Linked DNA regions of Homo sapiens. The protein of the gene in region 1 interacts with the protein of each later gene in a pairwise test. Each region holds a gene or a part of one and is shown in the gene's direction. Other genes may lie near its edges. The genes, in order: FLNC, WNK1, REPS1, SYNM, DYSF, MYBPC3 and USP25.

Region 1 (3,568 bases):
TAATAGCAGTAAGTGGGGCAAGAGCCACCCTGGGAGTGAGGGGTATTCGGGTAGGGTGGACCGGAGTCTCCTCATGGTGTCACTTGCCCTCCACGCAGAGGTGGCTGTGGGACAGGAACAAGCATTCTCTGTGAACACACGAGGGGCTGGCGGTCAGGGCCAACTGGATGTGCGGATGACTTCGCCCTCTCGCCGGCCCATCCCCTGCAAGCTGGAGCCAGGCGGTGGAGCGGAAGCCCAGGCTGTGCGCTACATGCCCCCGGAGGAGGGGCCCTACAAGGTGGATATCACCTACGATGGTCACCCGGTGCCTGGCAGCCCGTTTGCTGTGGAGGGTGTCCTGCCCCCTGATCCCTCCAAGGTGAGGAGATAGGAGCTGGTTGGGGCTGGGAGTTGGGGACTTGTTGGGAAGATAGATGAGTCATAGGGGGCAGAGGCCAGAGGGACTTATGTGCCTGGAGTGGGCACAGCCAAGGGTGTGGGGCTGAGGCCAGCCCCACCCCACCACCTGCCTTGGAGACAACTTAGCTATTAAGAGCCTGGCCTTGGAGTCACACCTGGGCTTGAATCCCAGGTCCACTAACTGGGGCAAATTGCTTCATCTCGCTGCCTCAATGTCATCACCTGGGATTGTTATAAGCACTCAGTCCACAGTAGCAGCCACAGTTGGAGGTGATGAGTTGGGTGGGGGCCATGAAGGCTGGGATGAGGAGGCCAGGTGCAGGGAACCCACAACCTGCCTCTTCCCCTAGGTCTGTGCTTATGGCCCGGGTCTCAAGGGTGGACTGGTAGGCACCCCCGCGCCATTCTCCATCGACACCAAGGGGGCTGGCACAGGTGGCCTGGGGCTGACCGTAGAGGGCCCCTGCGAGGCCAAGATCGAGTGCCAGGACAATGGTGATGGCTCATGTGCTGTCAGCTACCTGCCCACGGAGCCTGGCGAGTACACCATCAACATCCTGTTTGCTGAGGCCCACATCCCTGGCTCGCCCTTCAAAGCCACCATTCGGCCTGTGTTTGACCCGAGCAAGGTGCGGGCCAGTGGACCGGGCCTGGAGCGCGGCAAGGTCGGTGAGGCAGCCACCTTCACTGTGGACTGCTCAGAGGCAGGCGAGGCGGAGCTGACCATTGAGATCCTGTCGGATGCCGGGGTCAAGGCCGAGGTGCTGATCCACAACAACGCGGATGGCACCTACCACATCACCTACAGCCCTGCCTTCCCTGGCACCTACACCATTACCATCAAGTATGGCGGGCATCCCGTGCCCAAATTCCCCACCCGTGTCCATGTGCAGCCTGCGGTCGATACCAGTGGCGTCAAGGTCTCAGGGCCTGGTGTTGAGCCACACGGTGAGTGGACAGGAGGAGCCAAGAAAGGTCAAGTGGCAGGTGCAGGAGCTGGGTAGTCCGTGGGAGGGAGGGAAGAAGAGCTGAGAGCTGGAAGAGCAACCTGGGGTGAAGGGAGGGCTCTCGGAGCAGCCCCAGAGTCCTTACTGGCCCAGAAACCCCAGAGAAGGAGTGGAGGGGAAGACCGGGGGTGGAGATTGGCCTCTGCTCTTGTGGCAAAACTGCACCTGCCTCTGGGCGTTTTTCTGGAGAGATCTCTTCTTTCATGTGCTTAAGGGGTACCCTGATCCAAAAAGCTAAAACTCTGCTCTGGACGGGGGCACGGGGAAAGCTTTGGGGTAGAGGATGACAAGAGTCAGAAGACAGTAAGTGGGAATGGGCCATCTGCCAGGGGCCAGACCCTGGCTAGGCATGGGCCACGGCAGAGGGATGCAAGACCCAGGCCCACAGCCTGGTGGGTGACTCAAGTGAACAGAGAATGTCACTACATGGAGAAGGGAGTGAAGGCAGAGGCTGGAGCTCACAGAGGTGCAGGGGAGGGTGTGGGGCCCAGGCTCCGATTAGAGGAGCAGCCTGGGAGTTGGGGAGTGGGAGAGGAGGGGGAGAGGAGGGTGAGAGGAGGGGAAGAGGAGGGGAAGAGGAGAGGGAGAGGAGAGGGAAAGGAGGGGGAGAGGAGAGGGAGCATCTGTGTGAAGGCTGCCCCCACCCCTGCTGAACACGCCACCCCTGGGCTCCAGGTGTCCTGCGGGAGGTGACCACTGAGTTCACTGTGGATGCAAGATCCCTAACAGCCACAGGCGGCAACCACGTGACGGCTCGTGTGCTCAACCCCTCGGGGGCCAAGACAGACACCTATGTGACAGACAATGGGGACGGCACCTACCGAGTGCAGTACACCGCCTACGAGGAGGGTGAGGGCCGGTGGGCCAGGCTAGTGGGCAGGGCTGGGCAAGTGGGCAGGGCCGGGATCTGATGATATTGCCCTCGGGGCAGGAGGGGTGGTGGGGGCGCACACTCCCTGATTGATGCCCCTGTGGCTGGCTTCCAGGCGTGCATCTGGTGGAGGTCCTGTATGATGAGGTCGCTGTGCCCAAGAGCCCCTTCCGAGTGGGCGTGACCGAGGGCTGTGATCCCACCCGCGTCCGAGCCTTCGGGCCAGGCCTGGAGGGTGGCTTGGTCAACAAGGCCAACCGATTCACTGTGGAGACCAGGTATCCTCCCCCTTTGCTAGCCTAAATCTGTGACCACCCTTTCCCAGCCCCTGGCCCTCCTCGCTCATCCCTCTGCCTGGGCCTCAGCCCCACCCCATCCTCTCTCAGGGGTGAGGCAGGAGCAGACCCCCTCCAGGACCCCAGATTGGCCCCTGTAGCTCGTTTCTCCTCAGCTGGGTCCCCAGCGGCCTGCCCTCTTTCCTCCCTGTCCCCCCATTCAGCTACTCCCTCATCCTCACTCACTGGTCTTATGAAGCTGATGGGGGGATGTTATCTCTCAGGGGAGCGGGCACCGGGGGCCTTGGCCTAGCCATCGAGGGTCCCTCGGAAGCCAAGATGTCCTGCAAGGACAACAAGGATGGTAGCTGCACCGTGGAGTACATCCCCTTCACTCCTGGAGACTATGACGTCAACATCACCTTCGGGGGGCGGCCCATCCCAGGTGTGCAGAGAGAGTGGTCGGGGTCTCAGGGAAGACAAGGGAGGGTGCAGGATGCTCGCCCCACAAGGGGGAAACTGGAAGGAAGTTGGGTAAGAATGTTCATAGAGAGGACAGCCTAGAGTGGGTTGGGGCCGGAGCCCGGCCAGAGGGAGGACGTGGAGGAGGCAGGCAATGAGGGTTGATGTGACAGCCCCCCTAGTCAATCACAGGAACACACTCTGGCCTCCTAGCCCCTTGTCTGGAGCTCAAGACCTTGGCTTTGCAGGTCCACCACTCACTGTGTGTCCAGAAACTCAGACACAGTCCACTCCTCTTGGCGGCTCAGGCCAGCCTTGGGCCTTCTTGCACGCATCGTCTGCAGAACTCCCCTGCCCTCTGCAGACCCAGCTGCCCGGGCAGGTCATGTCTTCAAATATTGTATGACTTGGGACTGCTGAAATTGGAAATTTTTTCCCTTATCTAATTTCCCATCTTTTTATTATTTCAGCCACAGTGTCAGAAATACATTTCATTTTTGAAAACATTTTATTTTCACATTTTATTAATTTAGGAAGGCCTTCTCTTCCAG
Region 2 (4,220 bases), on another chromosome or scaffold:
CCTTATGTGGAATCAAATCTTTTAGTTCCTATGGGTGGTGTAGGAGGACAGGTTCAAGTGTCCCAGCCAGGAGGGAGTTTAGCACAAGCCCCCACTACATCCTCCCAGCAAGCAGTTTTGGAGGTAAATAGAATTACTGCATGTTTATATGTAAAACGTATATATGTAATTGGACAACAATGATAAAGGAGAAAGAAACAGGCTCCCCTGGTTTAGAACTTATTTGGAGACCATGTCAAACTAACTTCTGCATGACTTTTTCTTACAGCAGAATGAAATGCCAATGTGGGGTCCTTGTTTCCACTGGCTGTTCTGTTGGGAAGTGAGTGTGCCTTGGAGAAGATGAACCCTATTAGCACTTCACTTCTCTAGCTAGTACTTTAGCCATTATTCTTGTCCTTTCACAAACTTTTTCCATTGGCAGTCATAAGAGTATCTTACCCTCCTGTGCTCTCAGCAATCATTTTTGCCCTGCTAGGAGAAGATCTGAATTCATCTTTGTACTATGCTCTGTCTGCGCTATTGCACACTCTTGGTAAGATGCTGGCTGCATGGCAAGTTGTAGGTTCACACTGCCTAGCAGATATGTTGGCTGACCTCATACCATGCAGTCTATACCAGAGACTAGCTTTAGCAACTTCCTTTGGAATTTTAAGACCATTATCTCTAGATGCTGAATATTGAGAATTTACTAGTAAATTTAGTGCTTCTAGGACGTAGTGGGGAGGGATAAGGAAAAAAATAAGTAGATTATTGGGGATAGTGAATGATAAATCTATTACTACCGAGATTTGAGTTATCTTTTCGATTCACAGAGTACTCAGGGAGTCTCTCAGGTTGCTCCTGCAGAGCCAGTTGCAGTAGCACAGACCCAAGCTACCCAGCCGACCACTTTGGCTTCCTCTGTAGACAGGTACGTAAAACTAGAATTCTCCTTCCTTGACTGGTAAATAAGACGGTATGAAACGCCAAACTGTCAGACCTTTAAATCTCATATTATAAACTGCACTTTTTTTTCTTTTTAAATTTCAAAGTGCACATTCAGATGTTGCTTCAGGTATGAGTGATGGCAATGAGAACGTCCCATCTTCCAGTGGAAGGCATGAAGGAAGAACTACAAAACGGCATTACCGAAAATCTGTAAGGAGTCGCTCTCGACATGAAAAAACTTCACGCCCAAAATTAAGAATTTTGAATGTAAGTATTCCTAATTTGTGAGTTTCATGTTGTTAAAGGAATTTGACACTGAAAAAGATTTTAGAGGTCATCAAATCCAAACCACTCACTTCATAAAATAAAGATAACTATCTGTGTGTGACAGATAATTTTTTTTTTTTTTAGACGGAGTCTCGCTCTGTCGCCCAGGCTGGAGTGCAGTGGCATGATCTCTTCTCACTGTGATTGCAGTGCCTCCTGGGTTCAAGCGATTCTCCTGCCTCAGCCTCCCAAGTAGCTGGGACTACAGACACGTGCCACCACGCACGGCTAGTTTTTGTATTTTTAGTAGAGACAGGGTTTCACCATATTGGTCAGGCTGGTTTCAAACTCCTGACCTCAGGTGACTCACCTGCCTCAGCCTCCCAAACCACTGGGATTACAGGCACCCAGCCAGATAATTTATATAGTACTCTTCTCATTTCATGCCCACAGTCTCTTTGACTTAAATATCACATTTTTAGAAAAATGAAAAGGTAGTTCATAAAGCTATGATAGGGCCAGCAGTTAATATCATTTAAATATTTCTTAAGGCTTAGATGAATTGATGAATGTATAGGATCTTATAATTAGCCAAATGATATTCTTACATTCCATATTTCTATGATAAAGCACTACTTATCTTTTAGAAAAAGAATAGAGAGTTTTAGTAAGTAGCTCAAAGGCTAACGTCTTCTCAAAGATTTTTCTTGCTACCAGTTTAAGAGACAAAGTACTAGTGCTCCAAGGAACAGCGATAACACTATGCTTCCTTAGACATAAAGTCAAGTGCTAATCTGCATTGCTTTTCTGAAATTCAGTAATAAAGCTGAATATGGTCTTTGGAGATGATGTACCTTTTTTCTTTTTAGGTTTCAAATAAAGGAGACCGAGTAGTAGAATGTCAATTAGAGACTCATAATAGGAAAATGGTTACATTCAAATTTGACCTAGATGGTGACAACCCCGAGGAGATAGCAACAATTATGGTACGTCTGCATTTGGAGTTCTAGGTTTTTCCTTAGTACTTGATCTTAATAGCCATTGCTCTAGGCAAATATGCCATATTTTATAATCCATGTTTTTTTAAAGTTATGCATTTACTTCAATGTGAATAAAACTATCACACCCAACCTGTGATTTAGTGATGTTTTTGTCTAGGCTATGTCTAACTAGATATTGAAGTTCTTAAAAAGAGAAGAGCTAACTTGAGTACAAAATAAATAAAAATATAGGTAAGTATGCAGATAGGACAGAAGTCATAAAAGTGACATAAAGTTTGAGAAATGACACTAATTAGACTGACATCACATTTCTTTTACAGGTGAACAATGACTTTATTCTAGCAATAGAGAGAGAGTCGTTTGTGGATCAAGTGCGAGAAATTATTGAAAAAGCTGATGAAATGCTCAGTGAGGATGTCAGTGTGGAACCAGAGGGTGATCAGGGATTGGAGAGTCTACAAGGAAAGGATGACTATGGCTTTTCAGGTTCTCAGGTAGGTTCACCACTCCCATAGTGAAACTTTGTTGATTTAAAATATTTTCATAGTTCTAAATTTGCTATGCAAAATGTCCAGTGATATCACCTGACACCCATGACCGACAACAAACTTTTATGTTCTCTTCACATGTGGCAGTTTGCTTTGCCTAGTCATTGAGATTGCATTTGAGAATGTATTTAATCACTTTTGTTTGTTGTAGAAATTGGAAGGAGAGTTCAAACAACCAATTCCTGCGTCTTCCATGCCACAGCAAATAGGTGAATTTATTTTCTTTCCTTGTTTTTACCTTTGACTTAAGAAGCCATTAGCCGAGGGTGGTGGCAGGCTTCTGTAGTCCCAGCTACTCAGGAGGCCGAGGCACGAGAATCGCTTGAACCCAGGAGGCGGAGGTTGCAGTGAGCTGAGATCGCGCCACTGCACTCCAGCCTGGGTGAGAGAATGAGACCGTGCCTCAAAAAAAGCAGTTGTATGTGCCAATAATGAAGTCTAACAATATTTATAATAATAATGCTATTAAGTTACGTTTGTTTGTTTGTTTTTGACCAGGCATTCCTACCAGTTCTTTAACTCAAGTTGTTCATTCTGCGGGAAGGCGGTTTATAGTGAGTCCTGTGCCAGAAAGCCGATTACGAGAATCAAAAGTTTTCCCCAGTGAAATAACAGATACAGGTAAGGGATTGATTCTGCCACATTGTTATGTAAATTCTACAGTGCCTCTGCTATGTTGAAAGCTTAATCATAAAGCAGTAATTTATGATGACACAGATAATAAAAAAGAATAGAAAACTGAAGTTATAACCAACAGATAAACATATGGGAGAGGGAAATAGATGAAGAATACAGAGAATTACAGAAAAAGCCAAGAAGCACGGCCATACCAAGATATAGTCTGTATAATAGATATTGTAGTATGTGTTTATTTCTGCACTTAGTACTGTTGTCTATGTTTTAAGATTACTCCATATTTTTTATCAAAAACAGATATTTATAGGAGCTGACTTAGGCTAGCAGACAATCTTTTGAATCCATCCTTTTAAAATCAGCTGATTCTTATCTTTTTGTATTCCTTTGCAGTTGCTGCCTCTACAGCTCAGAGCCCTGGAATGAACTTGTCTCACTCTGCATCATCCCTTAGTCTACAACAGGCCTTTTCTGAACTTAGACGTGCCCAAATGACAGAAGGACCCAACACAGCACCTCCAAACTTTAGTCATACAGGACCAACATTTCCAGTAGTACCTCCTTTCTTAAGTAGCATTGCTGGAGTCCCAACCACAGCAGCAGCCACAGCACCAGTCCCTGCAACAAGCAGCCCTCCTAATGACATTTCCACATCAGTAATTCAGTCTGAGGTTACAGTGCCCACTGAAGAGGGGATTGCTGGAGTTGCCACCAGCACAGGTGTGGTAACTTCAGGTGGTCTCCCCATACCACCTGTGTCTGAATCACCAGTACTTTCCAGCGTAGTTTCAAGTATCACAATACCTGCAGTTGTCTCAATATCTACTACATCCCCGTCACT
Region 3 (4,220 bases), on another chromosome or scaffold:
ATACAAAACGGTAACATAAGGAGCCCAGAAATAAGCACATATAAATATAGCAGTTGCTTTTCAAGTTAATGGAGAAAAGATGAGTTTTTAAATAAATGGTTAACTTATTCTTTTTTTTTGCGGGGGGAGACAGAGTCTTGCTCTGTTGCCCAGGCTTGAGTGAAGTAAAACCATCATAGCTTACTGCAGCCTTGAACTCCTAGGCAAAAGTGATCCTCCCACTTCAGCCTCCTGAGTAGTTGGGACTATAGGCATGTGCCACCACATCCAGTTAATTTTTAACTAAATTTTTTTTCGTATAGATGAGATCTCACCATGTTGCCAGGGCTGGTCTTGAACTCCTGGCCTCAAGCAGTCCTCCTACCTTGGCCTCCCAGAGTGTTGCAATTACAGGCATGAACCACTGCTCCTGGCCTCAATAGTTAACTATTGAGGAGGATCAAAAGGATATCTGATTTGTTTCTCATTCCAAAATAAATTCCAGTTTGGTCAGACTTGTATATTTTCAATATTAATCATAAACATTCTAGAAGAAAACATGTATAAAGACCTTTTTTCTAAGTCTAGCAAACCCAAAAGTCCTAAAGGGGAAATGACAAGCTTGTATAAAAATTGGAAAATTCTGTATCACCAAAACAGCTTTTTTGGAAAAAACAGATAAACTAGAAAACAACATGTGCAATATGATCTGGTTTCTGCCTAAGTCATCAGCTCCATCTGCTGCATTCCCTCCTCCCCATCAATTCTACACACACTTACAGCTACACTCTGGTCTTTCCTTCCTGAGGATGCTCAGTAAATAGTCATTGAATAAATGAATTAATTCCATGACAGTTTGCAGGTCAATATGTATAATATAATAAAACCTTTTTTTTTTTTATGAGATGGAGTTTCAGTCTGTCACCCAGTCTGGAGGGCAGTGGCATGATCTCGGCTCACTGCAACCTCCATCTCCCGAGTTCAAATGATCCTCTCACCTCAGCCCCCCGAGTACTTAGAATTACCAGTGCGCACCACCACACCTGGCTAACTTTTGTATTTTTAGTAGACATGGGTTTCACCGTGTTGGCCAGACTGGTCTTGAACTCTTGATCCCAAGTAATCTGCCCTCCTTGGCCTCCCAAAGTGCTGTGATTACAGGCATGAGCCACTACCCCTGGCCACAATAAAACTTCTTAAAATGAGTAAAGAAGATTAACAGTCCATTTAAAGTTGCCAGAGAACAAGTTGGGCAAGTCAGGAAAAGAAATGCAAATGGCTAACAAATATAAAACTTTTAATAAATACCAATTAAAACAGCATTGAGATTCTGTTTCCCTTCTTGAACACTACCTCCTCATTTCTAACCATTTCCCTGGTGTCTTCCCAAAATGTCAACAAACCATACTGTGATCTCCTTTTAGGTCTTCCCTCTGTCTAGCATATACCTGGCATATGTTAGTTGCATTGTTATATAAACAAAAGTATTTAAGATATGTAATGAACCTCTAAGAGGCGTCAAGTGGGCAGAAGAGTAGAGGATTGGGGCTGCATGACCTTGCCTTTTTAAACTCCCCTTTTCCTCATAGTTCCCTTGATGGTGTTAACCTGCCTGTTTATTCTCTTTGCCCTTTTACATTTCTTCAGAAGGACATGCTCCTTAGTGGCAGGAACAGGAACTTCTTCCAGTGCTGGTCAGCCAGCAAAAATGACTCTTTTTTGTGTATGTAAATAAATGGCTGTTATTGTTGTGATACAATTGCTTAATCATTAATAGGTCCTTTTTTTGAAGTCCTGTGAATAGTTTTATTCAGACTTAATACCACAGCATCTCAGATACCTTATCTTCCTTTGAGTGTTATGGAAAAATAGACTAAAACTGCTCTCTCTATACAAAAGTTTGTGTTATTTGAAAAGATACAACAGGCATGCCTAGTGTTTATTTTAAGATAAGATTATAATATCTGCATAGTAGAAACCTCCAGCTTTTAGAGTTATGATTTTGTAATCTGAAATCCTATTTTTTGAGTCTAATATTTACTTGTGCTAGCAAGTCTAGAAATACTTGTTGAAAGACTGGAATGATTAATGTAGATCCTTGAACACTTTCATGCTCTAAAAAAGACAAATTTTGTTTGTTTTAAAGAAGAGTAGTGTAGCCATATTAAACACATTTGGAAAATAAGAGGGAAAACCCGACTCAATCTCATCTGAAAAAATTGTGATAGACTTTTAAAAAATAGTTTCCAAATTTGTATTTATGTGGTTAAAATTAGGTATCTTGCCTTTCTTCCCCACTTGATAAATCCTTAGTATTTTTCCATGTTGTTATATCATTTAAAGACCGTCACTTTAAATGGCTGCATAATAGTCTCTTAGTCACATGGTCCTATTGTATGTGCAGTGCTTATGAATAAGAGTGGGTGGTACGTTGTTTCTTTAAAAATGTGACTCATAACAAAAATTTATTCTAAGAAAATTGCTAATCATATGGATTTTGATAAATAGGAGAATGATGACCTTATTGCAAAGCAGTGACTTTTTGTTTGTAAACATATGAACCTGAAACTTGAGGAAGTTGGTTGTCAGTTGTGAGTATTATACCATCTATTAGATAGATATTTTGAGACGTTACAAACAAGTTGGGTAGCTGCTTATTTTTGAAGGGAGATTTTTGTTGTGAATCTTAATGTTAACATTATGTTATTTTATAGATCATGGAGCTTTGTGGTGCAACAAGACTTGGTTATTTTGGAAGAAGTCAGTTCTACATTGCTTTGAAACTTGTAGCTGTTGCCCAGTCTGGTTTCCCTTTAAGAGTGGAAAGTATAAATACAGGTAAATATAGAGTACACTAGTAACCGAAAGAAAATAGGCTTCTATTACAAATGAAGTCAAGTCAATAGAACTCTTGTGTCTTTCTGATCTTATAGTGGCATTTGTGACCTTGAGTGAAGTGTCGTGACTTTATTCCCACTACCTTGCATTTCTCACTTGAAAATACTAGAAAAATATGTCTGACCTGTATTACGGCATAGTATATGTACTTCATCTGTATTTGACTATATGTACTGTTCAAATGGCAATTTTTTAAGAATTAATTTACCAAAAGTTGTTTAGAAATATTTTAGGCGAATAGTTTTATTAAGGTAAATGATAAATTACAGCGACCATCTTCATGTATAGCGTCCCTGTGTTCTTCATTTCCAATAAAACAACATTATACTTTGTATTTTTGTTTGTTTGTTTGTTTGGGAAGGCTGTGGAGGCTTCAGTTGAAATTAAGAAGTAACAGTTAACCTAAACTTTTTGATCGATAAGAGACAATATTAAAATATTGGCAGACTAAAATCTAGTTATAGACATCTGACCACATTACAAGTTTGTATTAGTCCATTTTAACACTGCTATAAAGAAATCCCTGAGACTGGGTAATGTATAAACAAGAGAGGTTTAATTGACTCACTTCTGCATAGCTCGGGAGGCCACAGGAAACCTACAATCGTGGCAGAACGTAAATGGAAAGCAAGGCACATCTTATGTGGCCACAGGAGAGAGAGAGAGAGAGAGAGAGAGAGAGAGAGAGAGAGAGCAAGGGGGAATAGCCACAGACATTTAAACCATCAGATCTCATGAGAACTTGCTCACTATCACAAGAGCAGCATGGGGGAACCGCCCCCATGATCTAATCACCTCCCATGTGGGAATTACAATTCAAGATGAGATTTGGGTGGGAACACAGAGTCAAACCATATCGAAGTGTTACATCAGATAATTTGTTTTTCAAGTATTTAGAGGCTTGTTGATGTGAAAGAAGATAGAAATTCTATAAAGAAAGGCACTTAAATGCAGAGGGTTCTTTCATTTTCATAGAGTAAAGGGGAAAGAGAAAAATTAAGATTTTAAAAATAATCTGTACAGAAAAATTTCTGTAAAATTCTGTAAATATCAGAATTTGTAGAAATAGTTTTAAGTACCAGTTTAGTTTATTGGTCGGTAGAGGTTTTCATTGTGGACCTCTAGTTTGCCACACATCATTCTTCTAGTGTTGGGAGTTTACATTCTTTTCAGGTAATTTTGAATTCTTTTACATGTATATTGAATAAGCTTAATAGTTTCCTTCCTTCATGTGGAGGTTCTAAACAGAGACGAAAGTAATCATGTAATGGAGGTAAGTACGCTTTCCTCTGAAATGATTTTGTAGCTGTATTTTTTCTGGTCTAAAAGTATCACTTATTTAC
Region 4 (4,220 bases), on another chromosome or scaffold:
CTTTCTCCCCACGCCCTGCCCTGGCTCCTCAGCTGCAGGACGCCACCCCTTCTGCTGCCGTCATCCTGGGGTGCAGAGCCTTGGGGCCTGGCTTTTACCCCGAATGTTCCTCTGATTATATAGACCTCAGAACTTTCTCAGCAGTGAAAGCTGTTTGCGTTCCTGGAACCTACAATGCTTGGTCATGAGGGCGTGGGATTAATGGGTTGGTGTCCTGTTTCCTGGCCTCTGCCCTGAGCGAAGGGCTGGGGCTCTGGACTCGGGCCTCTGCACATGCCCCGTCCACACACAAGCATCCCGCAGTCACTGCGCCGGGGCAGGCCCGCTGTGTGCGCCTTCGCGAGAGTGCCTCATGCCTCCTTTGCTTTCTTCCAGCTGCTCACAGGGCTCTCGTGTTCATGGGGCTCACCATGTTTCAACAGATGGAAATACAACTCAGTGCAGTTTGTCCAAGCTGCCAAGTCCCTGCTCGGGTGTGGGCACCCTGCTCCGTTTTTGTGCCCAGCTCTCAGCCATAAGATTGGCATTTCTCAGTGGGCTCTTGTTCTGGATGCCTTTTGCCGTGTGCAGTGTATTTCTTGGAACCGGAGTTAGTGACTTCACATGTTGCTCTAGCAACTGAGAAACTGTTGCACCCAGAGCTGCCAGCAGCCCAAGGGGTCTTCGCGAGTGACTGGCTGACAGGCATCCCGGTGCTAAGCCCCTCGCCAGCAGGCTGGGTCTGCTGGGACCACTCTCCTCAGCTCTGGGATCTGAAGCAGTAGACGTGAACAACCTAATGAAACTTCTATAATTTTAGAACTTTGGCGCAGACATAGTCAAAGAAATCACCTTGTTGGGTACTTCTCACCATTTTATTAAAGGAGATAACAGGATGCCAATTTGGATGAAGTGAGGCCCCTGGGGGTGGCATGGGGAGGGGCTACTGACGGGGGGCGCTTTAGCACTACCTTTTCCGTCTGCCTGCCTTCTACTTCTTTTTGTCGTCTCCAAGGTGACCCCCTGGAATGCAGTTTGAAACCACAGATGCAGTCTGGCTGCCTTATAAGTGTCAGTCCCTGCCGTCTCCTGGTCAGCCCTCTGCAAGCTGCCCCCACCAGCTGTGACTCCAGGAAGAACCCAGTGGGGGGTGTAGCTGCTCTGGGGCCCTCTAGCCTGGGGCCCACATCTCTCCAGTGCCCCCTTGCTCCTGCTCCTCTTCACCCTGGACTGAGAAAGCTTTCTAGAAGGGCTTGGCTCGCCAGTACTGCCGAAGCCCTGGCCTGGTCATTTTGTTCACTGGGCTAGTAGGGGTTGAGCGCCATGCTGGCTGCCAGGGATGTGGCGGTGAGCAGAGCAGGTGGCCTGGCCCAGGTCTGCTGAGGCTGGTGGGTGGGCTTGCCAGCCCTATGGTGCAGCCCTGCCCAAGTCTCCTCTTCAGGTAGAAGTCCTAAAACAGGTGACACTATGGTCATTGGCCGCATACCACGATACGTTTTATTAGAGGCACTTCTTACTCTTTCGTTTCCTAATGAATTATGTTTGTAAATTATTTTTACAGGGCCTTATTGGAAGGAGAAAGTAATCCAGAGATAGTGATCTGGGCTGAGCACGTTGAAAACATGCCGTCAGGTAAGTAAAAGCTAATGACTTGACTTAGCTTTAGGCATCTGAACTGTTTATTCTGTGGCTAGATAGTAAAGCACCATCATCGGGAAGAACGGGTTAGATATGGTGTTTAGATAACAGGAGTTCATCTCTCATTTAAGTACCAAATAGATTTTAGTTTAGTGTGACATAATTTCAATTATGTGAATGAGAATGTTTGGGAAGGTGCTTGATAAACTTGGTCCCTCTCTCGACAGGATGCAGGAGCGGAAGGGGCTAATGGCACTGGGCAGTGTGAGGGCGAGCAGGAGTGCACCTGAACTTGTGTTTCACACCCCTGGAAGGGACACTCCTTCCATTTCCAGACCAAGGGGTTATGGTTGTTACACCTGTAGAGGGAGGTATGGCCTTGGATGGCAGGCAGGCAGCACTCTGGAACCTGCTACCCTAACAGGAAGAGAGATGGGAATAGTTACATTGTTTACACCACCCTAGGTTGTTGTGAGCAGCTCAGGAAAATGTGTCCTGGTGCCTTGAAGACTACCTTATTGAGGCCAAGAGCCTCAGGACAGGGCCCATCCTTCCTATGGCTGCAGAACTGACATAAGATCATTAATGTTCATTAGAAAGATCCTAAGAAACTGAGGGATAACTTGTTTTTTAACCTTTTAAAGCCCTATAGAATCTTGAAGAGCTCTGGCTAAGCAAGTGTCGATTAAATTACGTATAGAATGTTGAGTTCACACCTTAGGCAGCAGCATGGTTTTAGTCTTCATTGTTTCTTTTAGGCAACTCATGGATTTGACATGTCACTGGGTTGAGAAGAATATTTGGGTTCTAGTCATCTATAACTGGAAGGGATCTGGTCTTAGACAACATGCAGCAAATTTTCTTTCTAATTTTGAGAGTAAGTTTGAAAAAAGCAAAGGTGTTCATGGAAGGGTAGGCATTGGTCAACCTGCCTGGCATCAGTTAACGTGTGACATCTATAAAACAAGAATTAACTCCCCAGATTTCAAGGTTTACTTAGTTACCTACATTTTTAACCTGTGGATACCTAAGTTTGGACATCCATCATGTAACCTAGAGAGAGGGGAGAAGGAAGAAAAGGGCCCAGGAGCTCCGAGGAAGACCAACAGTCTAAGCCAGGGCCTTGCTCAAATTTTCCCAGTTGTGATTTTGGGGCCGAGGGAGAGCACACAGAGGGGCTAACAGCTGTTGCTGTTAACTTGCTTCATTCATTCATTCATTCATTCATTCATTCATTATTTTTCAAGCTTCTTGAAGGAAATAGAGACTTAATATTTGTAAACTAAATTTATTCTGGCAATTACATATTATGCCAAAAGCTTTAGAATAAAAATTACTAGTTGGGAATTTTTATTAGACGTTGAGCTTCTAGATAGTTCTGTTCTGTTGAGTAAATATACAGATAAGTTCCTAAGTAGTGAACTTATCAATACTTGTTAGTGTGCTTGTGTTTCTTTTATAATATTGCATAAAATAATGTTGGCCGCTTGCCCGCTAGCCGGTGGACCTAAACCCAGTCTGTAATCTTCCATGTTTCTTGTTGAATCTTAACTGTAAATGAGATGGTCCCTGCACTATTGCCTGGGGGTTCATCTTCTGGGACTTCTCAGTTGGATCAGTAGGATCAGTTGACCTGAAAAGAGGAGTCTTGTAGAAAATGTCCTGGCCTGGTCTCTTTCCTGTATCTTGGGATCTGTGCAAAGGAGGCCTCTGGCCTTGGCTCCATAAGGGAGAGAGAAAGCCCTGTCCCCGCTGAGCCAGCTGGGGTGTGGGTAGACACCAGGGGCACTCTCGGGGTGGACGGTGCTCCTGGCTGCGTTCTAACCACCAGCTGCCATTCCTAAAGAGCGGTTTCCCCTGCTGGGGTGTGGACACCCCAAAGGGTAGCACTGTCTGCAAACAGCCTGGAGCAAAGCTGGAAGCCCTGAGGACTGCCTCCCAACTTCAGGATCATGACACTAAGACAGACCGGGGTGTTTCTGCACTGGCTCCTTTTCAGATAAGTGTTAAATGTAAAATAAAAGATCAGAAAGCTTAAAGAAGTTAAATTCTTTAATACTTGTTGGCCCAATATGGAAATCAGTGAAACAGAAGAGTATATTAAATAGTGGAGGATAATGCTATTTGGTGTTTAATAATGACACACTTTGTAATTACAGAGCTCTTCTCTGCTACAGTAAATTAAACTTACCTCAAAAAGCAGAAATTAATGATTTCAAAATATAAGATTGTGAAATTTCAGCCACAAAAACGAGCACCTCTGACCTCTCTGGGATATGCATTGTGCTTTATGATTAATGTTAAGATGAGTGAGTATTTTAATATCAGTAACTGGAGAAACGTGTTAGGCTGAAGTATTTGTAGTGCTACATTTTATTGTAACAGGATTTTGTAAACTGCCAAAAAATAATTTGGGCACCAAATATAACTTATCTTTATAATGAGCTTTCTGTGGTAACAGTGTATATTTATTATGATGGAATGGGATTTGGCCTGCAACAATGCTTGTAGATGGAAAAGGGTAATGATGACTGTCATTTTAATGAATGCTTTGTTCAATTTCTACAGAATTCAGAAACAAATCCTATCACTATACCGACTCA
Region 5 (4,096 bases), on another chromosome or scaffold:
TCAGAGCCATATTCCTTGGTGGAGGGATGCCAGAAACAGGGAAGATACTGGAGGGCAGTGGTCCGAGGCCAGCGCACCAACCTGTCCCCCACGTCTCATCTCTTCCAGGCCTCGCTGGTCCTGCAGGTGTCCTACACACCGCTGCCTGGAGCTGTGCCCCTGTTCCCGCCCCCTACTCCTCTGGAGCCCTCCCCGACTCTGCCTGACCTGGATGTAGTGGCAGGTGGGTAGCCCACGTTGGCCTGGCTGGGCCCCAGCAAGAAGGCCGGCAGTGGCACTTGAGCCTGGGGGCTGGGAGCTGCAGCGAGGCTTCCCAGCCTTTGCTGCCCTCCCCAGGTTGGAGGCTGCCCAGGCCTGGAAAGAAGAGGGTGCAGTGGGTGGGAAGTCCTGAGGGCTGCCTTCTGCTGTGCAGAAAGAAGGGGCAGCAGGCACGTTCCCTTGGGCGGTGCAGGGAGTAATGTGAGGGTGCCTCCAAGCCCCAGCTGCCTGGGGACGGGGCTGAGCCCAGGCTGGGTGTTCTGAGCTGTGCAGTTCCAAGAAGGGTGTGTGGGGATGGGGTCTGACCCAGGTGATACCTGAGGCCCCACAAACTCCCCAGAACCGAATGTTTCCCTACCTCAGCACCCAGCAGGCCTTTGGTGATGGTGTGTGACAAAAGAACTAGTTTTTTTTCTTGAAAGAGCCCTGAACTGAACTTCAGGGTTCCAGTCCTGCCTTTGACACTGAGTCTCTGTGTGACTTTGGGCTGATTACTTTCCCTCTCTGGGCCCATAGATTATTTGTGAAGGGAGCAGACTAAGTTAGCTAAGTGCTGTGCCTGTCTCAGCTCTCTTCACTTGGTTCTGCCAGGCTGGTCAAGCGAGGACCCAGCCCGGGGTGGCTGGCTCTCCACTGGTGGGCCTGGGTGTGGGAGCCTCCATGTGGTCCAGCCTGCTGGGGTTGGGAGGAAGCTACATAGACGGGCTAGTGGGCACTTGCCCATGGGAAAGATTCTAGAGTTTTTCTCTTAGTGAAGGGAGCTAGAAGCAAGCACAGCATTAAAACCGGAGCAGCCCATGTCTCAATTGAGTGTGCCCTGTGCCTGACCTGGGGCCAGCCCAGCACAGGGCTCTGTGGTGAGGTCGGCAGAGCAGAGCTGTCTTGTTGGGGCTCAGCACTGTCCGAGCTTAGAGATGGGAGATCAGTCTGGACTGGAGTAACCTGGTAATCCTGAGCTGTGTGGCTGGAGTGGGCTCAGGGGAGGAAGGAGAGGTGCCCGTGGTGGCAGAGGGTGGGGAGCAGGGAGGGTCCGAATACTCTGGGACTGTGTTGAGGTGGATCTGACAGAGTTAGGTGCAGGCCAATCAGTGGAGGCTTCCAGACACGCCTGGGAGGTGGTGAGAAGGAACAGGTGCCACTGGGCTCCACAGCTATTTCTGAGCTTTGCACCAGGCTGGGGTGGGCGGGGAAGGCAGGGTTGGGGATGGAGGTGCAGTAGGTTGGTTTCCTTCACCCCAACCTCCTCCCTCCCCTCCCGGGGTTATGCCCTGCCCACAAGACAGGCGGGGGACAGAGCCGGGCCGAGACTTGGTCCCTGCTCAGTGACAGCACCATGGACACGAGATACTCTGGAAAGAAGTGGCCGGCCCCCACGGGTGAGACACGGGCCAGGACTGTCCTGATCCCAGACCCTCCCTGTAACTGTCTCACTAGCTGCCATGGTCAGCTTGCTGGAGCGGGGCCAGGTGGCAGAGGACTCCTCCTGCAGGACTTGGCGGGTGGGAGGGCTAGGGCCATTCTGTTTTCTTCCTGTTGACTAACTGGACTGACTGCCCTCAAGTTTCAGCTGCTGGAAGCTCCTCTTCTTTCTACCTTATCCATCCTGGCTCACTGATGGGGAGGGAGGAGGGAGAGGAAGAGGGGATGAGTCTTAGGGCCCATGCCTTTTGGATCTTCTGCCCCCTGGGCTGGGTCCCAGGGGCAGGGGCAGGGGCAGGGCCAGAGGGATCCAGGCCTCATTAGGGCCCTCTCCTCTTAGACACAGGAGGAGAGGAAGACACAGAGGACCAGGGACTCACTGGAGATGAGGCGGAGCCATTCCTGGATCAAAGCGGAGGCCCGGGGGCTCCCACCACCCCAAGGAAACTACCTTCACGTCCTCCGCCCCACTACCCCGGGATCAAAAGAAAGCGAAGTGCGCCTACATCTAGAAAGCTGCTGTCAGACAAACCGCAGGATTTCCAGGTGATGAACGGGCTTTCTCTGACCCCAGGCTCCTCTTCAGCCATCAGCTGCGGGTGCCAGGCACCTGCCTGGTTTGTCCAGCTTCAGGGGAAGATGTGTGTGGGATCCTCAGGGCCCTCCTGTGGGGGAATCTGTAGTTTCCCTGGGCCTGGGCAGATGCCAAACAGGGAGTTCACATCTTACATCCACAGAATAAGCTTCTGCCGAGACCTGTGGTTTTGCGCTTAAAAAAAAAAAAAAAAAAAAAGTCACTGCAGAGATTCAGCATGTCTTTGCATCTCTGATCAGAGAAAAACCTGATTTTTCTAACCAGGGTATATCCAACCAGCAAGCTCCTGGCTATTCAGGTGTGGTCTGTGTCCAGCACCTTCCGCATCACCTGTATACTTGTTAGACATGCAGAGTCTACTCAGACCTGCTCTACCAGAATCTGCATTTTAACAAGATCCTTACCTCAAAGAAGCTCTGTCTAACATCTTTTTTTTCTCCTTATATCTATCCCCCTGCATATAGCCATGGATTTTTCTGAGAGTCATGTGGAATTTGAATTTGTTCAAGCTCATCACAGAATAAAAGCTATTAATATGAACACTTTGACACATTTTTATCCAAAAATCCATCCCATTTTATTTGCTTTTAACTTTGGTCCTTTGCCTATTTTTTTTTTCTTTTCAAAAGAATTTTCTATTTTGATGTAGTCACACAGTGATATTTAACTCTTTACAACTACTTTTAAGGTTAAAAGCAAGAATCTTAAATCTCTATTTATAATACTAAGTGCAACAAATTGCAAAAATATATTTCTATTCTAAATCATGGTAATTTAAGCAGAAGTCCTAGCTCTAACCACTGTTTGCCCCAAAAGACAAAATTCTAGCCCCCATACTACTATTCCCCAAACATGTTCATATTGCCTTTGTTCTCTTTATGGAAATACCATATGTTTATTTTAGACACTTTGGAAAATATATTAAAATGAGGAGATTAAAAATCACTCATCCATCTTCCCATTGCTATTAAGAATATATCCTCCCATATTATGCAATTTACAAAAAAAAAAACAGTTGGTCAGTAAATAACAGTTGATTCTAAAGTGGAGCCAGTAAATATCTTATTTTTTTCCATAGAATTGCCTTAATATTGTAAAATTTCATATTTTAAAATATCTTACCTAATATTTGGAAGCATAGACGTTCTTGAAGTCTTCATTTACTTACAGCTCAATGGCAAAAATTCTTAATTTATTTCTCAGAATGTAAGAAAGCATTGCATCTTATAAAGAATAAAGACTATTTCTGGGGTCACTTCACTGTGTAAGTTCGACCTCTGAGGGAATTGTCAATAAAGAATATTCAAGCCACTTAAAAATGCCAGTATCAATGGGGTCTCGGGTGGGGCTTGTGCCAATGGCTGAATGACATAAATGGGGGCTGTATCTGCCCACCCCTGGGGTTTAATGTGGGTAGCCGACGAGGGGCAGCCTGGCAGCTCTTCTATGGAGCTGTGGAATTTTATAGATGTAAGGGGCCTTGGTGGGAAAATATGATAGTTCGTATAATGCTCTTCCTAATTCCTTTTTAATACTTTCCCCAAGAAGCCAGTGGTGAGATGGTCCCTGAGATTTCTGACTCTTGGGGTGGATGGTGGGTGGTCCTTAACTCTTCCCCCTTCCTCCTGCTCTTTCCTCCTTCTGGCTTTCAGATCAGGGTCCAGGTGATCGAGGGGCGCCAGCTGCCGGGGGTGAACATCAAGCCTGTGGTCAAGGTTACCGCTGCAGGGCAGACCAAGCGGACGCGGATCCACAAGGGAAACAGCCCACTCTTCAATGAGGTGGGAGACATGGGGCATGAGGGCCAGAACCTTGGTGGGCCTT
Region 6 (3,680 bases), on another chromosome or scaffold:
ATACCGGTTCAAGAAGGACGGGCAGAGACACCACCTGATCATCAACGAGGCCATGCTGGAGGACGCGGGGCACTATGCACTGTGCACTAGCGGGGGCCAGGCGCTGGCTGAGCTCATTGTGCAGGGTGAGCCTGGCTGGGGGGGCACATGAGGCTTTAGGGCTTGGACCCCTCAGCCCCCACCCCACCTAGCCCTGTAGGGGAGCAGGCAAACCTGGGCTCAAGGCCTCTGTGACCTTGGGCCTTTGACAGCCTAAACCTCATCCTTCTCATCTCTAAAATGACGATGCTGAGGTGACCGCTCCAGAGGGTACTGAGAGGGTCATACGGGCCTGGTGAGCATCACCACCCCTCAGACACTTGAGGTTCCTTATGTGCACTGCACCATCACAGGCAAACATGGCACACACAGGCACACGTGTTTTCACATGCCCACATGCACCCAGACACGTGCGCACCAGCGCCCATGGGCCCACACGCCCTCCACAGGGATTCACGCCACACCCACACACCCTCCCGAGCTCAATGGCTCTGCCCTGCCCTGCAGAAAAGAAGCTGGAGGTGTACCAGAGCATCGCAGACCTGATGGTGGGCGCAAAGGACCAGGCGGTGTTCAAATGTGAGGTCTCAGATGAGAATGTTCGGGGTGTGTGGCTGAAGAATGGGAAGGAGCTGGTGCCCGACAGCCGCATAAAGGTGTCCCACATCGGGCGGTGAGTGTGCAGGGCAGGTGGATGGGACAGGTGGAGACTGAGATGGAGACAGAGAGAGACACAGGGAGAAACAGAGAGAGAGAGATAAAGACAGGTGGACAGAGAGGCAGATGCACAGAGACAGGACAGAGACTGAGACAGAGACCCACAGAGAGGGAGAAACAGACAGACCCAAAAAGACAAAGAGACAGAAAGACAGAAATAGTTCTATAGAGACAGAAAGATATGCACAGGGAGGCACACACATAGGAGAGTTCGTCAGAGACAGAGAAGAACAGAGGGACAGAGACAAAGAGGCAGCAGGGAGAGACACGGACGGGGTCGAGCGCTCCCCAGCACCCTCCCCCAGCTTGTGACCAGGGCAGGGCAGGAGGCCACCAAGGAGGCCGGCTCTGGCCAGAGGCCCTCACTGCCTCTCCCGCCCTCTTGCTCATCCCTGGAGCAACTGGGCTGGCCGTGCTGGGCCCAAGTTCACAGAGATTAATGAGACCCAGCCCCTGCCCAGTCTCCAAGGGCCCAGCCAAGGAGATGCTTTGATGTAGAAATCACTTTTACGCTGCCTACCTCTGAAGGCACATTAAAAAGCTGGAAAATTAGATAATATAGAAAAAAAAAGGCATTTTTAAAAATCAGAATACCAACAAGCCAGGACAAGGTGAGGGCCTCCTGGGACCCTGGCTGGGGTATCTGGCAAGGCCAGGGGTGTGTGGCCCAGTGGGGTCCCCTGAGCCACTGCTCCCCTGCAGGGTCCACAAACTGACCATTGACGACGTCACACCTGCCGACGAGGCTGACTACAGCTTTGTGCCCGAGGGCTTCGCCTGCAACCTGTCAGCCAAGCTCCACTTCATGGGTGAGCCTGCTCCAGGGTAGGGTGGGTCGGGGCAGTGGGGCCAGGAGCCCCTGTCACTGGGCCCTGCCTTTGCCCCCGTGCTACTTGCTCTTCCTTCTCTTGCAGAGGTCAAGATTGACTTCGTACCCAGGCAGGGTAAGTCTTGGGGCCCCTGAGTCTTGGTTCTGCTCACTTTCCCGCAACCCACCCACGCAGGCCTCCCCTCCACTCACAGAGGGAAGAGCAAGGATCAAAAGTGGGGGTCCTGGGGCCCAGCTTCAGCTTTGCCACTCATGACCATGGGTCAATTATAATCTCTGTGAGCCTCAGTTTCCTCTTCTCTAAAATGGGAACCCTGATAGTGCCACCTCATAGGATAGTTATAAAGATGAGGTGACATGATGTATCAGACCTGTCAAGTGCTGTCACATGTGTGACTGTTATTATTACATCTTTTCTTCTTCTTCCTTTTTTTTTATTTTTATTTTTTTTGAGACGGAGTCTCCCTCTGTCGCCCACGCTGGAGAGAAGTGGCGCGATCTCGGCTCACTGCAAGCTCCGCCTCCCAGGTTCACACCACTCTCCTGCCTCAGCCTCCTGAGTAGCTGGGACTACAGGCGCCCGCCACCATGCCCAGCTAATTATTTTTTGTATTTTTAGTAGAGACGGGGTTTCACCATGTTAGCCAGGATGGTTTCGATCTCCTGATCTCATGATCTGCCTGCCTCGGCCTCCCAAAGTGCTGGGATTACAGGCGTGAGCCACTGCGTCCAGACTGCTTTGCTTTGTTTAACTGAGGGCAGATTCCTGATTTATTTGGCCAGGGAACCTTTTTAATGTGTGCATGTGTGCGTGCATGTGTGCGCGCGTGTGTGTGTGTGCATGTGTCTGTGTGTGTATGTATATATGTGTGTCTGTGTCTGTGTGTGTGCGTGTATGTATGTGTATTTGTGTCTGTGTGCATGTGTGTGTCTGTGTGTGCATGTGTGTATGTGTATGTGTGTCTGTGTGTATGTGTATATGCGTGTGTGTGTGTGTATTGTGTGTGTGTGTATGTGTGTGGCAAGACACTGATGTTCCCCCAGTTTTCAAAATGCTATGCTAGGTGACCTGACCTGAATATTACAAGCCTCCCAGCCAACGTCCTGGGGTGATGGGAATGTTCCAGATCTTGGTTGGATTAATAATTGCATGGGTGTATTCATCTGTCAGAACTCAGCCTACTGTCAGATCTGAGCATAAACTATACCTCAATACAAATCTAAAAAACCAATAACCAGGGGCCCAGGCTCTTGAGCAGCCCCGCCCCAGTGACCTGTGCTCCTCCTGGCTCTCCCGTTTCTCTGAACTACATTGTGTCTTCTGCAGAACCTCCCAAGATCCACCTGGACTGCCCAGGCCGCATACCAGACACCATTGTGGTTGTAGCTGGAAATAAGCTACGTCTGGACGTCCCTATCTCTGGGGACCCTGCTCCCACTGTGATCTGGCAGAAGGCTATCACGCAGGTACTGTGGGTCCCTCCTCAGTCTCCCCATCTATAAGATGGGTGTGTGGAACCAGCCAAGTGCTAGGACCTGCTGCACACCCCACCCACATGTGCACGCCCTGCTGTTGGCTACCCCATGGGAGAGACTGGTCAGGGGGCAGGCAAGGTGGGCAGTGTGGGTCAGGGGGTGGAAGAAGCAGCAGAGGGGCGCTTCCAGGCTGAGTCAGCTCCTCTGCTCCCTACTTCCCTCCTGCCCTGTTCCCAGGGGAATAAGGCCCCAGCCAGGCCAGCCCCAGATGCCCCAGAGGACACAGGTGACAGCGATGAGTGGGTGTTTGACAAGAAGGTGAGTGAGACTGAGGTCAGGAGGAGGCTCGTTTGTCTTTCATCACTTTCTACCTACGTGGTGCCGAGCCCTTGGCGAGGTCTCCATGGAGGTGCCACACTTGGCCGGGTGTGTTGCTGCCCCCAGCAGGGTCCCTGTGGGGCCCTCACACCTCAGGCAGAGGGTCTCTGTGAAGTGTGCTGATGGCCATCACAAGGATGTGGACACCCTCTCATTGCCAGGAAGCCCTCATGACTGGGCTGCTCCCTGGCTCCCTTCATCCTAAGCTGACCTTGACCTTGACCTTGTGCTCCCTCTCAAC
Region 7 (4,220 bases), on another chromosome or scaffold:
CTAAGTCATGGTTTTAACCAGTGTCTTTTTCTTTGGGCTAGAAATTCTAATGTAAAGAATTATTTTCGAAGGATAGTTGTGAGATTTCTTTTTTTCCTGATCATATATTATACCCACTCTTGGAATTTTCAAGAGGTGTGGAAAACTTTTAGAAAGAGGTTGAGTTTTAACTAAACTGTGTACCCAGTTACTTGTCAGGTCCGCATTGTGGTGATACATATAACAATGTCAGTGCCCACATCCTGTGCCTAAGATTGCAGTGAAGAAAACAAAGGTGGTATTAAAGTTTTTGTTATTGTTTTATTTCCTTTCAGCATTGGTTTACTGAATTACCACCTGTGTTAACATTTGAATTGTCAAGATTTGAATTTAATCAGGCATTGGGAAGACCAGAAAAAATTCACAACAAATTAGAATTTCCCCAAGTTTTATATTTGGACAGGTATGGTTTGATATACTGCATGACTTAGTTTGAAACAGTTTAGTAAGGGAGAAAATATTGTTTAGAGGAAAATTCTGCATAATTTTCTTAGAATTAATTTCTACTTTTGCATAATATACCTAATACCATTTGTCAAGGTAGATGAAATTTACTTTGTATTAGAAAAGTATAGTTTTTGGGAATAATGTTATAAGGAAATTTAAAAAAGATGAATTTTGTAATCTTAAAATTCAGAATTTTAAAAAATACCATTTTGTATTATCTACCTTACATCTTATACAATTTTGAATGAATTGATGCTTTGTGGTGATGTCTGTACTTAATATTGTATCTATCTATCTTTCTGTCTTTCTTTCTGTCTCTCTGTCTTCCTGTCTTTCTGTCTTCCTGTTTTCCTGTCTTTCTTTCTTTTGTTTTTTTCTGTCTGTCTTTCTGTCTATCTTTCTGTCTTTCCTTCTTTTTTGTTTTGAGACAGAGTCTTGCTCTGTCGCCCAGGCTGGAGTGCAGTGGTGCGATCTTGGCTCACTGCAAACACCATCTCCTGGGTTCAAATGATTCTCCTGTCTCAGCTTCCCGAGTAGCTGGGATTACAGACACCCACCATCGTGGCTGGCTAATTTTTGTATTTTAGTAGAGACGAGATTTCACCATGTTGGCCAGGCTGGTCTTGAACTCCTGACCTCAGGTGATCCTCCCGCCTTGGCGTCCCAGAGTGGTAGGCCGGGTACGCTGGCATCTGGCCATATTGCATCTACTTTCATGATATTCGGAAATGCTAATGATTACCTTTTTCTGATAGATACATGCACAGAAACAGAGAAATAACAAGAATTAAGAGGGAAGAGATCAAGAGACTGAAAGATTACCTCACGGTATTACAACAAAGGCTAGAAAGGTATTTTAACTTTTATGAAATTAGGAGATAATTATCAGAAACCATGTATTTGGTGACTAGATTTTTAATTTCAAATTTGCTTTGAGTGATTTATAATTTTAGGAGTAGTTAATATTGTGTGAATAGTTTTGAGTTTTGCTTGAAACTAAAAATCTATAGTAGACTTTAAAAAATTATTCTAGTGTTTAAAATTAAATATCTCATTGTCAACAGGTAATGTTCCTACTGCTGAAAATAGATACAAAGTTAAATGAATATAGTTTTGACCTTCCTTTTTGCATGAAACTAAAGATTACTCTTGAGATTTTCATTAAAATGAATGGTATCTGAGTTTTTCTCCTTAAAACAGGATACAAACTCAGCTGCCTACCAAGTCTTCTCAGCAGCTTCGTAAAGGAGGAAATTGTGTCAGGTGTAAGATGGTATGTGCCGGGAGCCTAGAGAGCAATCTGTGTGTACAGGGAATGAATGCCATTCCATACCAGTGGATGGTACCATGTATGAGTATGGCCTCACTGTTGTCTATTGATTTGGATCATTTCTAAAAGACGTCAGAATCTGGACTGAGAAATGTTCTACAGGCCAGACAGAAATCTAAAGGCTGAAATGTCACAAGTCATTTCAGTTTGCAAACCCCAATCTGCTCTGCATTCCCCTATTTTAGGAATTTTCAAATTAGTAGTCTAAAACTTCTTACATCAAATAGTATATTGTATTTTAATGATTTTTATTCTTAAAAAGTATGAATAATCATATTGAAACATGATTAGTGGTAAAAGATAGGAGGATAGTACACATCACTGTCTTGATCATGAGACCAGATGCCAGATCTAAAAATAAAAACAGTCTCAGGAGATGTCAGTTTTCATCTTCCTATTGAGTTACAATTTAGAACAGCATTTACAGATTATAACAGTATATACTCACATTCAGTCCCAATCGGCCTTGGTTTCCTGTCTTTGGGGAACTTTTAATGTTTTTCTTAAGTGTATATTCAGTTTTACCATCTTCGTTTTAAAGCAAATGAATTTTATTGCTGAGGAAGTTTTATTGAAGTATCGTATCACGTTTTATAATAATAATAAAGGCCCAAATATGCTGTATATAGAAATAAAAGCATTTGTACATTTTATGATTAACAGATATTTAAGCTATGGTTCCGGTCCCAAACGATTCCCCTTGGTAGATGTTCTTCAGTATGCATTGGAATTTGCCTCAAGTAAACCTGTTTGCACTTCTCCTGTTGACGATATTGACGCTAGTTCCCCACCTAGTGGTTCCATACCATCACAGACATTACCAAGGTAAAAAGTAATCCTGATGCAAGAGACAGTTGTTACCTTTATTACACAATAATGTAACTGCTGCCTTTAAAGACAGTTTCTATAAAATGTATGCTTTGATTTACTTCAGTGAACTCCTAAGAGTAGATTCACTTAGAAGACTGTATGTCCTCTGGGAGTTTTTTTATTATTTCAGTAGATTTTATGGTTATGGATTAAAATTTTAATCACATTTTTTTTCAGTTCAGAATTATACTTTAGCATGTTTTGGTATGTACATATATAAGATTCAGCATTTTATGATCCATAAAAATAGTACTATCAAATTAGAATTTGTTTCTGTAATGTAAGCTGATAAGCCAGGGAAAATAATATCACCATGCGTAAGATTTTCTTGTTTTTTAGAAATAAATATGATTAAGCTGTTTTAACTCTAAAGCTACAACTTCATCTTATAATAATTTAGTTCTTATGTATTAAAAATCTCATTTGGATGTTAGATCAATCCACATATTTCTTTAAGATTTTTTCTTTTGAATTACAAGCCAATTTAATACTGTGGGTTTGGCACGATCTTTGTCAAGAGTTTCAGCTTGAAAGGTTAATAAGAAATACTCTATGCTTTGATACAGCACAACAGAACAACAGGGAGCCCTATCTTCAGAACTGCCAAGCACATCACCTTCATCAGTTGCTGCCATTTCATCGAGATCAGTAATACACAAACCATTTACTCAGTCCCGGATACCTCCAGATTTGCCCATGCATCCGGCACCAAGGCACATAACGGAGGAAGAACTTTCTGTGCTGGAAAGTTGTTTACATCGCTGGAGGACAGAAATAGAAAATGACACCAGAGGTAAGAAGTGTCTCATAGCATGGTTACTGTCACCTCAGATGGATATGTGTAATGTTAATATTGAGAAGGGAAATCACGTCTGGATTTTATATTTAAATATTATAGTCATTTTTCTTTTCCAGAAAGGGTTTTAAGATAAACTAGTTTGGCTCCCCATTTTTATAATCTCAATATCAGGTTCACAGGGACCAAAAGATTTTCCCTGGATTGCTTAGCTGATTAATGACATAGCAGATGGCCTGATTTTCTAGTTTGCTGCTCTAAATTTATATCAAACTGGTATTCACAGTTACTCCATTGGAGAAATGTCATACAATATCAATGTTTGTACATATCAATTAGGTACTAAATCTAAGTTTGCACAGGGAGTTCCGGTGATTAAAAAATTTTCTTTGGGCTTAAGAATTAGAAATGTGAATTTTAATTTTTAATAGCTCTAACAGATTTATGAGTATCTATGATCCCATTACTAGTCTGTAACAGAGTTTTTACTGGCATGCAGCAAAATAAGAAAAATAAGGACAGTGCTCTGGGTGGGGTGTGTGCACTTGTGTGCGTGTGCGTGTGTGTGTGTGTGTGTGTGTGTGTGTGTGTGTGTGTGTCAAGTTGCCATCTGTCCTTTCTTGGAAGGAACTCTCTTTTATTCTTTTCTATTCTATTTTTTCTTTTTTTTCAGAATAAGTTATTCTGAACTTTTCTCTTTCCTACTTTGCTGCTGTTAAAGTGTACTTAAAAAAATGG

The links.
Region 2: the proteins of FLNC (region 1) and WNK1 interact in a two-hybrid assay, tested with the Homo sapiens proteins (one large-scale study listed by BioGRID).
Region 3: the proteins of FLNC (region 1) and REPS1 interact in a two-hybrid assay, tested with the Homo sapiens proteins (one large-scale study listed by BioGRID and IntAct).
Region 4: the proteins of FLNC (region 1) and SYNM interact in a two-hybrid assay, tested with the Homo sapiens proteins (one study listed by IntAct).
Region 5: the proteins of FLNC (region 1) and DYSF interact in a two-hybrid assay, tested with the Homo sapiens proteins (one large-scale study listed by BioGRID and IntAct).
Region 6: the proteins of FLNC (region 1) and MYBPC3 interact in a two-hybrid assay, tested with the Homo sapiens proteins (one study listed by IntAct).
Region 7: the proteins of FLNC (region 1) and USP25 interact in a two-hybrid assay, tested with the Homo sapiens proteins (one study listed by BioGRID).

Annotation. Positions count from the first base shown.
Region 1 is NC_000007.14:128,843,906-128,847,473, forward strand, and holds part of FLNC (filamin-C), read left to right. Parts: coding exon 1-8; intron 9-98; coding exon 99-361; intron 362-752; coding exon 753-1,350; intron 1,351-2,084; coding exon 2,085-2,258; intron 2,259-2,395; coding exon 2,396-2,558; intron 2,559-2,839; coding exon 2,840-3,000; intron 3,001-3,568.
Region 2 is NC_000012.12:880,877-885,096, forward strand, and holds part of WNK1 (serine/threonine-protein kinase WNK1), read left to right. Parts: coding exon 1-123; intron 124-815; coding exon 816-913; intron 914-1,034; coding exon 1,035-1,197; intron 1,198-2,066; coding exon 2,067-2,183; intron 2,184-2,518; coding exon 2,519-2,692; intron 2,693-2,897; coding exon 2,898-2,955; intron 2,956-3,244; coding exon 3,245-3,367; intron 3,368-3,772; coding exon 3,773-4,220. UniProt on the Homo sapiens protein: Serine/threonine-protein kinase component of the WNK1-SPAK/OSR1 kinase cascade, which acts as a key regulator of blood pressure and regulatory volume increase by promoting ion influx.
Region 3 is NC_000006.12:138,946,387-138,950,606, reverse strand, and holds part of REPS1 (ralBP1-associated Eps domain-containing protein 1), read left to right. Parts: intron 1-2,693; coding exon 2,694-2,817; intron 2,818-4,220. UniProt on the Homo sapiens protein: May coordinate the cellular actions of activated EGF receptors and Ral-GTPases.
Region 4 is NC_000015.10:99,125,182-99,129,401, forward strand, and holds part of SYNM (synemin), read left to right. Parts: intron 1-1,540; coding exon 1,541-1,611; intron 1,612-4,185; coding exon 4,186-4,220. UniProt on the Homo sapiens protein: Type-VI intermediate filament (IF) which plays an important cytoskeletal role within the muscle cell cytoskeleton.
Region 5 is NC_000002.12:71,511,699-71,515,794, forward strand, and holds part of DYSF (dysferlin), read left to right. Parts: intron 1-108; coding exon 109-223; intron 224-1,541; coding exon 1,542-1,634; intron 1,635-2,017; coding exon 2,018-2,223; intron 2,224-3,924; coding exon 3,925-4,053; intron 4,054-4,096. UniProt on the Homo sapiens protein: Key calcium ion sensor involved in the Ca(2+)-triggered synaptic vesicle-plasma membrane fusion.
Region 6 is NC_000011.10:47,339,023-47,342,702, reverse strand, and holds part of MYBPC3 (myosin-binding protein C, cardiac-type), read left to right. Parts: coding exon 1-125; intron 126-546; coding exon 547-712; intron 713-1,458; coding exon 1,459-1,565; intron 1,566-1,670; coding exon 1,671-1,700; intron 1,701-2,912; coding exon 2,913-3,052; intron 3,053-3,298; coding exon 3,299-3,379; intron 3,380-3,680. UniProt on the Homo sapiens protein: Thick filament-associated protein located in the crossbridge region of vertebrate striated muscle a bands. In vitro it binds MHC, F-actin and native thin filaments, and modifies the activity of actin-activated myosin ATPase.
Region 7 is NC_000021.9:15,823,725-15,827,944, forward strand, and holds part of USP25 (ubiquitin carboxyl-terminal hydrolase 25), read left to right. Parts: intron 1-314; coding exon 315-442; intron 443-1,241; coding exon 1,242-1,337; intron 1,338-2,479; coding exon 2,480-2,641; intron 2,642-3,252; coding exon 3,253-3,479; intron 3,480-4,220. UniProt on the Homo sapiens protein: Deubiquitinating enzyme that hydrolyzes ubiquitin moieties conjugated to substrates and thus, functions in various biological processes including inflammation and immune response.